2 separate regions of the Homo sapiens genome follow, and region 2 is linked to region 1. A link means that fine-mapping ties the variant in region 1 to the expression of a gene that starts in the linked region. Tissue or cell type: whole blood. Region 1 holds a variant in brackets; the other region holds the start of a gene. All regions are shown on one strand. Distances are between the middles of the regions.

Region 1 (8,000 bases):
TTGAATTAAACTACCCTTGTAGTAACTCTTAGGTTCTGCCCTCTTGGTCACAGAGCTCACTGACAATAGATTTTTAAAAATTGTATTGATAACTTATCCCCAGCTGAGAGCCAGAGCGCCTAAGATACATCATCTTTTTTGTGGGAAACCACACAAGCAAGGCCAGTTGCACTAAAACCAGGATACTGGCTTTTCTTGGTTGTTTCAAAGGCTGCTCAGATTCCTGACTGTGTGCCTGTCAACCTTTCTACTAGATGACTTCTCTGGAAGACCCACCCGCCCCCCACATCGTTCTACCCTTCCCTCCCCACTCCCCCAACCCCTGCCTTTTCCATGCCTCTTTCCACAGGGATCATTGTTTTTCTCGGCCTCCTCTCGTCTGACATGCTCCCAGTGTGAGAGTGAGGCTTGGGGTACAGGGCAGCCCAGCCCGGCGAGATCAGCTACTGACCGAAGCTGGTCATTGCTTCTCCCTGGGAGCCACTGTGAATACATGCTACTATGACCCTGTTATTAACATGTGATATTGGTGTAGTATGTTTGTTACAATTAATGAGCAATTGTTCAAAATATATCAAAAATATTGGTATATTATTAACTAAAGTTAAGACTAGTTGACTAAAATTAGATGTTACTGAACATAGCCCTTCAACACATTTCACCATAGGTGAGAAATAAGCGTGCTTCTGCCCTCTCTGTTTTCAGCAGGGTAGAATTCATAGTGATGGCAAAGGCTGGAAGTGAGCTTTGTCTGTCTTTGCAATCAGCTGAGCCCACAGGGCAGCAGATGAGGCTGAGAGCCACAGTGCTCCGTACAAGGCTGCTCATCCACGACTAAGCAGTGTCTCCTCTGCATTTCCAGAAATGTCTGACTCAAGCTGCCCCTGCCATGGCTTCCTTAGGAGAAGGACGTTGTACTTGAACCTAGGGAAACAGTATGACTGGACAATCCAGAGTGCAGAGTAAAGTCATCCAACTTCACAGTGCTGTAACTGTCATCAGCTGGTAATAGAATACTTTTTTAGAGTAGCTTTAGATTTACAGAAAAATTGAGCAGAAAGCACAGAGAGCTTTACCCCACTGCATAGTTTCACCTGTTATTAACATCCTGCATTGGTGTGATATGTTTGTTACAATTGATGAGTCAATTTTGGTACATTATTAACTAAAGTTAATATTAGTTAACTAAAGTTAGATATAAACTAAAGTCCCTCGTTTACATTAGGGCTCACTCTTGTAGTTGTACATTCTATGTGTTTGGACAGATTTATAATGACACATACCCACCATTATAGTATTGTACAGAGTCATTTCACTGACCTAAAAATTGCCTGTGCTACACCTGTTCATCCCTTTCTCCCCTCTCCCAAGCCCCTGGCAACTACTGATCTTTTTACAATCTCTACAGTTTTGCCTTTTTCAGACTGTCATATAGTTAGAATCATACAATATACAGCCTTTTCAGACTGGCGTCTTTCATGCAGTAATATGTATTTAAGCTTTCTCTATGTGACTTGATGCTTATTTATTTTCATTGCTGTATAATATCCCATTGTATGAATGTACCACAATTTGTTTATCCATTTACCTACTGAAGAATATTTTGGTTGCTTCCAAGTTTTCACAGTTATGATTAAAGCTACTGTAAGCATCTATATGCAGATTTTTCTTTGAAGATAAGTTTTCAACTAATTTGGGTAAATACCAAGGAGCACTATTGCTGGATTGTATAAGGGTGTGTTTGATTTTGTAAGAAACTGAAAAACTGTCTTCTAAAGTGTCTGGACCACTTTATCAATTGGTTTTGACTCCTGAACCACTTTCATTTAGATGAGTCTAATTTTTCCAGAAAATACTTCAGAAATACACTAACTGTTAGTAACCTGAAACCCTTTTCTCACTGCACTCTTACATGGGACTTAAAGGTGAAATGCTGCCACCTTCATTCTTCTTTCTGTAGTCTTCCTGCTGGTCTCTGTTCTTGCTAGAACTAAACCATCCTAGCAGAAAACTTCCTCTTTTCCCTCTCCCTCCTTTTTGCTTCTCATCACCACCCTTTCCCCAGCAAAAGTTAAAGGGGAAAATGGACTAGAGCAGGGTTGGTAGGGGAGATCCCACTCCCATTTTCCCATAGCAGAGCTATTGCATTTTCTCCGGGATTTTTGTTTTCCTTTAAAATGTCTTAAATTGACACTGCTAAAAGATACATGATGCTCTCTGCCCCACAGCTCTGGGGTTGGCATGCCTTGTTCCTTACTGGTTTGTCTCGAGTCAATAAATGAGATTCTGCCCATACAACTAAGTGCATTTGGGGCATTAACTGAACAGCTTTGCTACACGTGGCTGGTAAGAACATGTATTGACCTGAGGGAGATACATTAGGGGCCTTAAAATCTGGCAGTGGACCAAAAGAAAGTCAAATGCATCATCCCCGTGTGTTTCTTCCCTCTTGGGGCTTCCGAGTCTCATTGGAACCCCACCACTATAAAACACCTGGAGTGGGTTTTGTGACTTGTCAGTCTTGTTACTTTATAAATAGGCTTCATGTTGTGTAACCTGAATGCTTTGGGTTAATACAAAGAGACAGACAAGACAGGCACAGGCTGATGACCTGGAGAATAGAGGGAAGAGCTGACAGGAAAAAGCATTCCAGGTAAATGGGGCAGGTTGGATCACCATGGTCCTTCTGTGACCATTTTCAAGGCTCTAATGAGTGGCCCTGTCTGCTCATGTGACTACAAGCTTGTTGCATTTCCCCTGAGTTTTGGGTACATCTGCCCATATACAGTTGGAAACTAAATGACCTGCAGTTGAAGAGACTTTCTCTGTTGGGGCCCAGAATTTCTCAACAGAGTGCACTGTCAATATGTTAAGCAAGACAAGGTTCTGTGCATTACAGAAATCAGAAACTTAGCATCCGCGGCCCCACCATTAAGTACCAGTAGTGCCCCCTAGTCCTTGTGACAGTCAGAAAGCACCTCCCACCACAGGTTCTCAGATGCTCCCTAAGGGGCATCTGCTACCAGCAGTAAGAACCCCTGGGCTAGCGGGTGGTCTGGTCAAGGTCTCCCAGTGAAAGGGAGTAAATCTGAGTACCACCCCGTCCACTCCTCCTCTTCAGCACCTGGAGCCTGCACTTGTTGCCCAGGCCTTTCTCCCCTACTAGCCTCTTCTCCCTCCTCCTGCCCCTTGCTTCTGGGGCCCAAGGAGGAGAACTTAGAGATTCTGCCAGTTTGCAGTGTGATGTGGGTTGAGAAATGTGGAGCTGCAAGAAGTAAGTGTATTTACCCCTTAACTCTTGAAAACCTGTAGTTCTGGGGATTTGTTTCCTTCTTGATTGAACTTGCTTCTTAATCAGCCACCCTTATCAACTCAAGTGAGCATGCCTAAGGGGTGTCCTGTGGCCAGCCCCCAAGGTGGACAGTGGGGATTAGCAATGGGGCAGCATTGTCCCCTTCCCCCATCCCCTACTTCCAGGCTGATGCTGCATTGATCTGAGATTCTGCCAAGTCACACTGGTATTTGTATTGGCCCAAACCCAAAGCCTCACAATGCCTTCTGCAGGGTGGTTCCGGGGTGTCCAGGGTGTTGTGCACCAGGGTGCAGGGATGAGTTTGTCATCACCAAGCTATTCACATGGAGGAAATGGGACAGAGTTCAAGGATTGCTTGTTTTTACCTCCTCCCTGCTCATACCCTACTTTCAAGCCACTTGTGTGAATGATGCCCACACATGGCTTTGACTGAGCTGAGGGGATGGGCTTGGTTTGATTTCAGCCACCAAGAGTCTAACTTTGCTGGCCCGAGGTGCACACCAGCAGAACCACTGCTCACCTGGGCCCAGAGGATGGTAATTCTGAGACATCACAGGCCAGGGAAGTTGAGATGGGGCCAATGGGCCTTCACGGATAGGGAGGGACTTATAACCTCCCCATGGATCCTTCCAGAGGTGGTGTTTGGTTCCTGTACTTCTTGTCAGCCAGGTGCCCTCTGCTCAGCTGGTTCACAATGCAAAGGGCCCAGGGCCCTGTGGATAGCTATAGCATCTGCCACTTTATCCCCAGCTTTGTCCCTAGCCCACTGCCGCCATCCCCTTCTTCCTCCCTCCTGGACTCTGGGAAAATCAAGTGTAACCCTTTCCAGAGACACCTCAAGGCCTCGTGTCACAGTGCCAGTCAGCTGGAACAGGTTTTCAGAGTGCCTCAGCTTGGCACGGCTTCTCTGCAACCTCAGAACTCGGCCCTGGTAGAGCCTGTTGGTGATTCAGCAGCTGGGGAACTCCAGCCAGCCCGAGAGGGCTCGGCGATACTCGCCCTGTTGCCTTGAAATTCCAGGAATTTGGATGGGGGCCCTCAGCCAGCCAGTGCGTGAGCAGGCCTGGGGAAGAGGAAGGTTGACTCAGTACCCAGCCCCTGGTCTAAGTCTTTGATAAGGCTTAAACTCTTCGGAAGAGACAATTGCTTCCTCCTGGCACAAAAGGGTGTGGCATAGATCTGCACAGGTGAGAGCAAGCACAGGGCCTTCCTCACCTCTAGCCAGATGCGTGCTGCATCCTGGTTAACACTGTTGGATAAAGATGTTTTACCTATCTGCTATTTGCTTTGCTTTATGAGAGAGGGTTCTCTCGGACCACCAGATCAGTGGGCAGCCTTATTCTATAAGGCTTTGAAGTGGGTAACATGTTGGGGAGAATACAGGAAGATGTCTGTGTGGCAGTGTGAGTTGTTGCATCACAGTGG[C/G]CGGGCCTTAGAAACAAAAGTGTCTCAACAGGAAGCAACTGGCTCCTCCTCCAAGGGTCTCTGTGCCTTTTTTATTTAGTTGTTTATTTTTTGCATGCTTCTCCAGATGTCAGGAAAAGCATTTCACCTCCTTTTGCAGCTATGTTACTTCTCTGTTAACATAGCTGCAAAGGGTTATGTAACAACTAGGTTACTTCTGTGGTGTCAGTTCTGGGCACTTGTTAGTGGCATTGACTCTAAAGAGTTCAAAGCAGTTTGCCAATATTCTCATTTGTCTCTTGAAGTAGGGAAAGATAGTAACCAGCTCTCCTAAATCAGTAATGGTGGGAAATGAGGTCTGGGCTGAGAGAAGGAGGGACAGGAGATACTAGTCCATGTGAGTGACCTGATCTTATACCCAGCCCAGTGCTGGTGGGTATTAGGAGGTGCAGGCAGGGAGCTCTGCCTGCCAGAGTGGTCAGGGGGCATCGTGGAGGACTTGGGGATTGAGCTCGACCTGGAAGGCTGGTAGAAATGACGTCAGGCAGTAAGGAGGCTTTTCTACGCAGAAGAGAAGGAGTTAGTGTTTGTAAGAGACCCGGACTAGGTAGAAACATTTGGGTGGAAGAAAGGGCTGTAATAGGGAGCATCAGAGATACAGGAACACCAGTGAGTGTGTTTGCTTCAATCATCTGGATTGTAAACTCCTTGTGGCAAGTCTTGCCTTTGCTTGAAGAGCCCTGGGACACAACATTCACAACGAACGTTCACAATGAGCGTTCACTCCTCTGTCTTAGCCTCCTTGGGATATGGCCAGGCCTCTTTGGGGTCACTGGATGGAAGTCTTTGTGTTCTTATAAAAGTTTCAGGAAAAGCCAACAAAATGAGTTAAGGGTAGGAAAATAAAATATTTCAGGGGTCATCTCATCGGGTGACCAAACAATGCAGGATCCACTTGACAGGCCACTTCAGCAGACTTAAATCCGGGCTTTGGATAAGGATGACAGTTCCTTCATTCCTCATGGATTTTTCAATATTGTAGTGGGAATATTTAATATCATTTAAATAGAAAAACACAGATTTAACTTACCACCCAACTGAACAATGGTACAGCTATTTATAATGGAGTTCAATGGCTTTTGAGAATTGGAAGGATCCTTTCTCATAGGAAGGGACTTTTCATTCATTGCTCTCTGCCCAGCACCTAGACAATGTCCCGCTAATGGTGCAGCAGGTGCTCAGTGAGCACTTGTTGAATGAATGAATGTCAGGATTCAAGTGCTCTGTGCAGCAAACCACCATGGCCCACGTCTACTTAAGTAACAAACCTGCACATCCTGCACGTGTACCCCTGAACTTAAAATAAAAGTTGGCTGTGATCCCAGCACTTTGGGAGGTCGAGGCAGGTGGATCACTTAAGGTCGGGAGTTTAAGACCAGCCTGGCCAACATGGTGAAACCTCGTCTGTACCAAAAATATAAAAAATTAGCCGGGTGTGATGACACACACCTGTATCCCAGCTATTCAGGAGGCTGAGGCAGGAGAATTGCTTGAACCTGGGAGGTGGAGGTTGCAGTGAGCTGAGATCATGCCACTGTACTCCAGCCTGGGCAACAGAGTAAGACTCCATCATAAAAAAGTAAATAAATAAAAAATAAAAGTTGGAAATAAAAATTCAAGTGCTCCTCATCTCCACTGAAATTAGAGTAAGAACCAAGACCTAGAGCTGTAGCGGCAGGGATCTAGACTAGAAGTAAAGGAATTCCCGAGGATCTGCAGGTTTTCCCATTCCCCATCTGTACACCCTCACTACTCACTACCCAGCCCCTAGTCCAAGTCTTTGATGAGACTTTAACTCTGTTTTCAAGCTGGTGACCTCTTAGAGAAATTCAGTTCAACATAAATGTATTAAAATCCTATGTAGGTGCGTTAGGCCAGGTGTAAGGATAGAGATGATTTAGCCACAGCTCCTGACCGCACTAGAGAGGAGAGACAGGTAAGATGTAAAAACTTCTGAACTGCAAGGCAGAATAAAGTAAGGATTCCTCTGAGGAAGAAATGATTATTTCTGACATTTGAGCAAGGCTTTGAGAGGCCAATTTGATTCCCATGGGTAGAGGATGGGATATGCCGACTTGAGAGATCAGCATGATGTGAATGAAAACTGTCAATAGGTTCGGTACGGTGGCCTGCGCCTGTAATCCCAGCACTTTGGGAGGCCAAGGCAGGTGAATCATGAAGTCAGGAGTTCAAGACCAGCCTGGCCAATATGGTGAAACCCCGTCTCTACTAAAACTACAAAAATTAGCCAGGCATGGTGGCGCGTGCCTGTGGTCCCAGCTACTCGGGAGGCGGAGGCAGAAGAATCGCTTGAATTCGGAAGGCAGAGGTTGCAGTGAGCCAAGATCGTGCCACTGCACTCCAGCCTAGGAGACAGAGCGAGACTCAAAAAAAAAAAAAAAAAAAAACAAACAAACAACAACAAAAAAAACTATCAATAGTAGCAGCTACCATTTGTTGCATGTTTATTGTGTGTCACTCAATATACCACATTTTTCTCATGTGTCTCTCGTTTAATCTCTAAACAACCCTGTGCAAGAGTTGGATATCTTTATCTGCTTTTACAGTGAAGGAAACTGAGGCTCAGGCAACTAAACTAAAGTCAGCAGCCATAAGAAGTTGGGTGAGGATCCTAGTAGCATGAACCCAAGGCACCAAGTTGGGAGTGCCAATTTTTGTGCAGGGAAAAGGGGCAGTGCTGGGCAGCTGGGGTCAGAGGACCTGACAGGAGGGAATGGGTGGAGTTTAGGTGGAAACGAGGTCTAGGATCAGGTTATGCATGCTAAATCTCTACTCAGGACTTGGGGCTGGGTTCTGTCTCTGCGCTGGGTTCTGTGAGTGGTACAGAGCCCATGGAGAGCTTAGAGGATAGGAGTGATTTCATTCAGCAAGGTCAGTCTAGTAGTAGGAGCAAAGATTTTTTTTTTTAAGCTGTTGGCAAGAAAACCAGTCTAACAACTATTTTGATAGCACAGGGAGAGATGATAGGGCCTGAATTGGGGCAGTAACAGCAGGGATGCAGGGGGATGGATAGGATGGACGGTGTGGAGGCTGGGTGTGTAGGAGGGCTTGGCTTGGATACTGGGTGAAGGAGAGGGAAGGGCTGACAATGACTGCCTAGTTATCAGTCCCGCCCAGAACCAAGGAAGAGGTGGAAGACATGAGTTCAATTTTGAACACATGATCTGGGGTACAGGCCTTGTGGAGAGTGGTGGAGGTTGGA
Region 2 (8,000 bases), 29 kb before region 1:
TCTATAATAAGCATGTAGGAGAAAGGAAAGGGAAAACTGACAGGGCGGTTTACCGGCTCTCAGTAGAGCATAACATAGTTCTCTTGTTTGCACAGGGAGGAGAGGCTGTGATTGGCTTCTCACAGAAGAGATTATACTGAGCTCAAGGCCAGCTGCAGCAAGTGTGTGCAAAGGCAGTCCAGGCAGACTCTTAGTGGGAAGGCCACATAATCATCAGGCTCCACGTGCAGAGAAACAGGAGCTGCAGTGGCCACGCGAGACAGATGCAGTGTCTGTAGGTGAAGGCGCATACCTGAGTCTCCACACAGCTTCAAGGGGCTACAGTTGGAATTTCACTCGGCTCAGAGAGTGAGGTGTTCCAATACAAAATGTCACACCACCCTTTAGGAAAAATGATTGCTTTGCTCTAAATCGCGTTCTGTCAATTTTTTTCTTATTTCTTTCACACCACAGCTGAGAAACAACTTCATACCTCCTGATTCACCTATGAAAATATTTCCCATAGGAAGAGGTATGCACGTGCATGTACATGCATATGCTCAAGCAAAGAAGCTGATATGAAAATGATAACATAAAGATAGTGGTAAGGAACTAAGACAAGGGAAAGGTGTGTCCACTGAGGGAGTTTTCCTTTAAATAATAGGTAGTTTTGTTGATGTCAAATATTATGCTAAGTATGCAAATAAATTCTTGCATTTAGTACTCACATCAACCCAATGAGTTAAGCATTATCCTTATTGAAAATGTGGAAACCGAGGCAGTATAGCAGAGAAGCCAGCACATAAGCCTCAGAACCAGCTTGTTCTGCTTTCAAAATCAAGCTCTGCCCTTTATTGGCTGTGTAATTCTGGGTAAGTTACTAAATTCACTCAGTCTTGATTCTTCTCTTATAAAAGGGGATGGGATCTATCTCATAAGATTATTGTGAGGATTAAATGAGATATATAAAATACAAAAGATAGAGCATCAACAATTTAGGATATTAGGTTTCCTCTATGACTAAACGTTTAAAAATCATTTCAATTCAGTTTACCAAAAAAATGATCTTTAAGTTAAAAAAAAAAAAAAAAACACCCAGCCCCTGATGACCTGTTTGACTTGAATGAATTGGAGGGTTATAAAACCACAGATATGGACCAGCTTTTGAAAATCTTGGAGGGAGAATTAATGATTTTCAAGCATTAGAATGTACTTTGATTTGGATACTCTTTAGTTTGTAAGATGGCAAGTTATCTCTTTTTTTCTTTTTTTTTTTTTTTTTTTTTTTTTGAGACGGAGTCTCGCTCTGTCGCCCAGGCTGGAGTGCAGTGGCGGGATCTCGGCTCACTGCAAGCTCCGCCTCCCGGGTTCACGCCATTCTCCTGCCTCAGCCTCCCAAGTAGCTGGGACTACAGGCGCCCGCCACTACGCCCGGCTAATTTTTTTTGTATTTTTAGTAGAGACGGGGTTTCACCGTTTTAGCCGGGATGGTCTCGATCTCCTGACCTCGTGATCCGCCCGCCTCGGCCTCCCAAAGTGCTGGGATTACAGGCGTGAGCCACCGCGCCCGGCCATCTCTTTTTTTCTTTTTTTTTTTTTTTTGAGACAGAGTCTTGTTCTGTCATCCAGGCTGGAGTGCAGTGGCACAATCTTGGCTCACTGCAACCTCTGCCTCCCAGGTTCAAGTGATTCTCGTGCCTCAGCCTCCCAAGTAGCTGGGACTACAGACGCACGCCACCATGTCTGGCTAATTTTTTGTATGTTTAGTAGAAATGGGGGGTTTTACCATGTTGCCCAGGCTGGTCTCGAACTCCTGAGCTCAAGCAATCCACCCACCTCAGCCTCCCAAAGTGATGGTATTACAGGTGTGAGCCACCATGCCTGGCCTGCAAGTTACCTCTTGATTTAAAATATTTTCCAATCATGAAGGAAATTGACTTGATTCTGCTACTTCCCTCCACCTCTGACTTTGGGGGTAGGGGACAGATAAGCAGAAACTGCTGAACATGACCCTCAGCCGGCTGGGCAGCCATCCCTCAGCCACAGTGAGCTTGATTTGCGTGTTCCAGTAGGAAGCAAGGAGTCAGGTCCTTCTCTAGTCCTGGGGAACAGGAGAAGGGTGGGGGAACCCCTGATTCCTCCCCTTCTGTAGCCAAAGCAGACTAGTTTAGGGAGGAGACAGGGAAACCACCAGAGCAGGTCAAGATCAACCTGAAGGAAGTGGGAGTCAGGGACAACCTACTAAAGGAAGTGCATGTGTGCCTTGTACATGCATGGGGTGGACCAAGGAAAAGATTTACCCTAAAAGAACAAAGTATGCTCCGACAAATCTATTGAAAGGAATGATTTACACTGGTGCTTCCTGCCCAAATGTTGAGACCAATGGCCTGGTGCTTCCTTCTTGAAACTAGGTTGCTCTACTTACATGAAACAAACTGGGCAGAGGTCAACCGTGAGAGCCTGAGCCTCCCCAAGTAAACAGCAAAAGATTCCCCAGGCCCAACAGCCCCCACCCCCACCTTCAAGGAAAGTGGATCTACCCGGAGCACGTAGGCCAGAGGAGGCAGGAGAAGAGGGTCAGTCCGTGAGCTCCGGGTACCTGGAGAACATGAATCTCCCGGGTGTACTGTCCCCATGAGGGTCACCGAGGAACCTATGGATCTTCCACTCTTCGCCCAGAATGTCTTCCCTCTATCCCCTCCACCTCCCCAAATTCCAGCACCAGGGGCCACCTCAGAGCCACAAATCCTGAAAGGACCACCCAGGTGACTCGGGCCCACACACCCCTCTTTCGGGGTACACTTGGTGGCAGGCTAGCAGGCTTTTGGCCTCAGCTGGTGGTGCCATATAACCAGATTCGTCACAGAGACCCATTTTTTATCAGTCCCAGGCCAGAAGTACGAAGACTGATCTTAACGATGTGGCCTGCCTGGGAGGTAAGGCGGCAGGCGTTGCCAGAATTGATGGGAACTGTGGCACAGGTGGGAAACCTGGTTTAACAAATTCTTCATTGATTCAGGGGACCACTTTCCTTGAGCCAAGTCTTGGCAAGCGGCCGGCGAAACTCACAGGTCCCTTTCCTGGCTGCGTCCCCAGCCTCCAGCCTTCCCCGCCCCAGAGATGCCCCAGGAGCGGCCCCTCGGTGTAGGTAACGGGTGCCCGGGCGGCTCCGCTCCGCCGCCTAGAGCCTGGAAGCCGCCACTGCGGCCCAGGACAATCCGGCTACGCGGCCGGCGCCGACCCCGCACGCTGGAGTCCGCTGCCGCACGGCGCTGGCAGTCGGGGGTGGTGTCTGAAGTCAGGCGCTTCCTGCCTTTTCGTCGGCCCGGGTGCCCGGCTCGCGCCGCCAGGCTCTGGGATCCCAGGTCGCCCCGCCCAGCAGCCCGCGCCCTGCTCGGTGCGCTCAGCGTCCCCGCCCCTTACCCCAAACCCCCACCCTCTGTGCCCTCAGGGGGGCACCCCCATCGGGGCGGGAGGGGGGGGTCAGCTGTGCCCCGGTCGCCGAGTGGCGAGGAGGTGACGGTAGCCGCCTTCCTATTTCCGCCCGGCGGGCAGCGCTGCGGGGCGAGTGCCAGCAGAGAGGCGCTCGGTCCTCCCTCCGCCCTCCCGCGCCGGGGGCAGGCCCTGCCTAGTCTGCGTCTTTTTCCCCCGCACCGCGGCGCCGCTCCGCCACTCGGGCACCGCAGGTAGGGCAGGAGGCTGGAGAGCCTGCTGCCCGCCCGCCCGTAAAATGGTCCCCTCGGCTGGACAGCTCGCCCTGTTCGCTCTGGGTACGTACGCCGGCTGCGGCGCCCCCTGCGCCGCGCGACACCCTGCTTCCCCCGGTCCCCGCCGAGTTCCCCTTTCCGGGGGTTTCTGCGCCCGCCTGGGAGAGTGGAGAGAAGCGAGTAGTCTCAATGGGTTGGCGCCTGGGAGGCAAGGGGAGTCATTAAGAATGACAAAGAGGGGACTGTCCGGTCGAGCGCCGAGGCTTCCCCGGGAAAGTGGCTGCCTGGGCCGTGCGTGAGAACACCTGGGAAGGGGAAGCGGAGTGTGAACGGGCTTGAACTTTAATCCGCCGCAGCTGTGTGTCTGCTCAGACACATGCCTACACCTACCTGCTTACCTGGCTGCCTCCAAGCCCGGCTCAGCCGGCGTCGCTGGCGTGTAGACTGGGCCGCCTCGGAACGGGGGCCGGCGTCTAACCCTCTGGCCGGGTCTTGCCTGCGCCCCTTTGGCACCCCCTGCCCACCTCTAAGCCCCAGCGACGAGCAGAGATGTTCAAGATCGGCAGAGGCGCCCTCGATCTCTTTTCAGAGCTCTTGAGCTTTGGGGGTAGGTTTTGGATTTTTGGGCGGATTAATGGTTCCTTTAATTAACTTCCCTGGGAGAAGTGGTTTCGGTGTCCGCCGAGGGCAGGAGCGAAACCCTAGACCGAGTGTTGCCAGTTTCCTTTGAGTATGTCCTTGGAAATGAAGGAGGGATGGGAAAGGTGAGGGGAAGTTAAACCCCTCTCCCGGGTCGGGTCTGCGGAGCGGTGCGTTTTTTGGCGGTGAAGTTCAAGGGTCTGTCTGGACGCGGTGAGGGCGCAGCGCCGCGCGCCTCCTGGCCAATTCTTGCCCCTTGTGCTGGTGGGTCTCTCTGGTGTTGAGATAGCTGATCAATAGCGCAGGTGTCCTGGTTATTGCTAGTCTTCCGTGAAGTGAATTGTTCGTTCGATATGCCCCGAGTTTAACCCGTATAGCATGCGGCTCGCTGCAGGGTGGTTAGAGTCTGTGGAAAGCCATGGAACTCCTCCCCAGAAATGCCCAGAGCCGCAGCCTCACCCAGCTCCGTGTACAACTACAGGGGGTTCGCGGCCCCGCCTGCAAGCCTGCCCTAGAAACGCTGATTAAAAACCGCAGCAGAAGGGGAGGCATCCTGTAAGAGAAATACAAGGCAGTCTTGGAACCGGATGCTCCCAGCTACACCCTTACCTGAAACTCACCAGCAGGTAACATGGGTATGGGAGGCTTTTCCCCCACATTTTTGAAGAATTGCCTTTTTTGTGTGCATGTATTGACTGTTGCTCTGATTTAAATTTTAGAAAAAGCAATAAAACATTACCAATACAAGGGAAGCTTCCTGGATATAATTATCCCTTGTAATGTTTTTGCAAATAATAGTAGTAAGTAGTAGTAGTAATAACAGCTGATGCTATTCGAGCATTTTACTCTGTGTCAGACACAGTCCAAGTGCTTTACATTTATTCATGCAGTTTTCACACCAACCGGATAAAGAAGGTGTTAATATTATTCTCATTATATAGCAGAGGAAAGTAAAGCACACAGGGTCCACAGTAAGTAACTGGACCAGGATTGTCGAAGAACGTGGAAGGAATGTGAATATGAAAAGTCACCTAACTTGTGGTCATTATAGTCCCATCTCTCTTTTGGGACTTTGCCTTAAAGAGAGATTATGTGGAATACCCTGGAACTTGTTGTTAAATTGAGTTTCCTATTGAATTCCTGGGATCTCAAGGTGGTTATTCGGTAAAAATTAGAGGCAGGAAATGATGAAGATAAGCACATTTGAGTAAGTGTTTGAAAGCTGTCCCTACACCCCACACTCCCATCCCAGAATTCTCGCCCACAAAGACTGCATTCATTCATCATGTAATTTTTCTCTTTTGCCTGAATGTTCTTTTCAGCTTGATCTTTGTTTCCTTCTTTAAGAAAATGATGTATAAACTTTAAAAGATTGATCAATATGTAAAAACTTGCTCACACAGTTCCAAAATGTGAGCAGTTGAAAAAAGTGGAGAAAAAAAAAAGGCAGGAGTAATTTACACCAGTGAGGACTCCTTTTTATTTATATGTCTTTAAAAGAAAAATCACAGCTGTGAGTTCTGTGCGTTTACTAGAACTGCTGCCTCCCACATATAGCTTTACTTTGCACATTTCCTTCAAAGCTGCTTTCCCCTCTGATTTTTCTTAAATAGTTGAAGGCAGTTCCAGGAGAATCAACCAGTGTTCCATCGCTACCCGAGATCTAGGAAACCTCCGTGGGGCTAGTCTGAGAAGGAACTGGCTGTTAGGAGTCTCGGTTAATGTTTGATTACTTGGAACCTGAGCATTGATTAATGTTTTCAGTAAGAGAATGTGAAGACTGTTGCCCAAATGGCAACACTGGAAACATAACCCAGGTTCCTGTGGTGGCTGCCCTCCCATGTCAGGTTTCCATCACTGGCAGGCAGACCGCACGGGGGCTTGGCATTTCCAGTTACATTTCCTCCTCTGTGTTCACGGAGCAAGATGTGTGATCTTGGGCAAGTTACTTAGCTTTTCTATGCCTTGTTTTTCTCACCTGCAAAATGGGGATATTAATAGGGTTGTTGAATATATTTAATGTATGCAGAAGGGTGCCTGGTATGTAGTAAGATCTTAATCTTATCATCATCATCATTGTTGTTGTTACTTTGGGCCCCATAGAATTCCAGACATCATTGCAGGTTATGTGAGTTGTATAACTGGGAGAGTTTGTAGGTTTTCGTTTATCTCATCTCCATGCTCTTTACCATTCCTTCGAAAAATATCACCCAACCTAAAAACCTACCTAGGTAATTTCTGGTGAATATGATTTGGCCAATGACAAATTCAAGCAAATCTGGAGGGTTTTTTTGTTTTGTTTTCTTTTGTTTTTTTGGTTTTTTGTTTTTTGAGACGGAGTCTCGCTCTGTCTCCCAGGCTGGAGTGCAGTGGCGCGATCTCGGCTCACTGCAAGCTCCGCCTCCCGGGTTCACGCCATTCTGCCTCAGCCTCCCGATTAGCTGGGACTACAGGCGCCCGCCACCACGCCCGGCTAATTTTTTAAATATATTTTTAGTAGAGACGGGGTTTCACCGTGTTAGCCAGGATGGTCTGCATCTCCTGACCGCGTGATCCACCCACCTCAGCCTCCCAAAGGGCTGGGATTACAGGCGTGAGCCACCGTGCCCGGCCCTGGAGGTTCTTTTAGACATCATGAATTCTTTAATTCTTTTTAATTTAATCTTTTTTAATTTTAATTATTTAATTATTTAATTTTTTATGCAAATTTTTTGTATCTCCTTTAGTATTCAACGATCAGTTGTTTATGGAAGTTAGCACTAAGTTCCAGTTTTGTCATCTGTAAAGTGGGAATAATAAAACTGTGCCCACCTCACAGGCTGTTGTAAGACTCAAATGAGATGGTAAATATGGAAGCTATTTATAAAAAAAAATAAGGACTGCACACAAAATGCAACTGATCTTATGATACAAAAATGGATTTTATAATCCAGAGATAAGCTTTATTATTTTTATGGCAACTCCCGTAAGTAAGGACCGAATGTGGACCTAAAGAATGATGTCATAGGAAATGAAGTAGCATTAAGGATGGGCAGAGGCGAAATAGATCACCTTCCCTGTTTAAGTCAGGACTGAGGGACCAGTACGGGAACTGAAAGAAGACGTTTCTTTTCTCTATTACCTGGACGTGATGTCTTTCAGAGTAGACAGTGGAGGTTTTCCTAGGACACATGTTTTCCGTATTGGGCAGCCATAATTAGGGAGTGTTCACTTAGAACATGGGCTGTAAAGCTGTATATGGAAGCCTTAGAGGCTGAGTTTTCCATATTTGCTTTTCCAGATTTTGGGTTCCTCAGGATAAAGTGATCTTTCTATAAATACTCAATGTCCCCTGCAAAGGGGACTTTTCTTATAGGAATAAGTGATGCTTCTTGTTACTGTTACTGTGGCAACATATGAAAAATAGATGACTTTTCCATTAGGCCTAAGGACCTTTTCAAAGTGTGTCTTGAACAAGGTCCTACTCTTTGCACTGCCCTCTAAAAGGGATGGGCAACGGGAAGAGGAGGTTTGGTTAATGGAAATGAAAATGGCTTGTACACACTGAATTAGGCATCTTGTGCTTGGTGTCACACTCAAAACCTCTGTAGTATCCTCTACAGCAGGCCTTACATTGGAATGATCTGGAGGGCTGGTTAAAATGGATGGCCAGGCCTCCTCCACTGCGGTTGTGAT

Evidence for each region. PIP is the estimated chance that this variant, and not a neighbour inherited with it, causes the effect.
Region 2: it holds the start of TGFA, and the variant in region 1 is fine-mapped to the expression of TGFA in whole blood (TOPMed, PIP above 0.99).

What each region holds. Positions count from the first base shown.
Region 1 is chr2:70,520,803-70,528,802 of GRCh38, reverse strand. All of the region lies in intron 1 of TGFA (transforming growth factor alpha), which reads left to right. Among named protein-coding and RNA genes, the nearest start is that of TGFA, 29 kb to the left of the region's middle. RefSeq lists an enhancer at 4,175-4,791. The variant C/G (reference allele first, on the strand shown) is at 4,739.
Region 2 is chr2:70,549,477-70,557,476 of GRCh38, reverse strand. TGFA (transforming growth factor alpha) reads left to right here and starts at 3,651. Exons shown (of 6, transcript NM_003236.4): 1 at 3,651-3,749. The coding sequence starts at 3,710. It overlaps LOC124907824 (a long non-coding RNA gene), which reads right to left and starts at 4,769. Exons shown (of 2, transcript XR_007086906.1): 1 at 4,085-4,769. RefSeq lists a silencer at 3,521-3,590.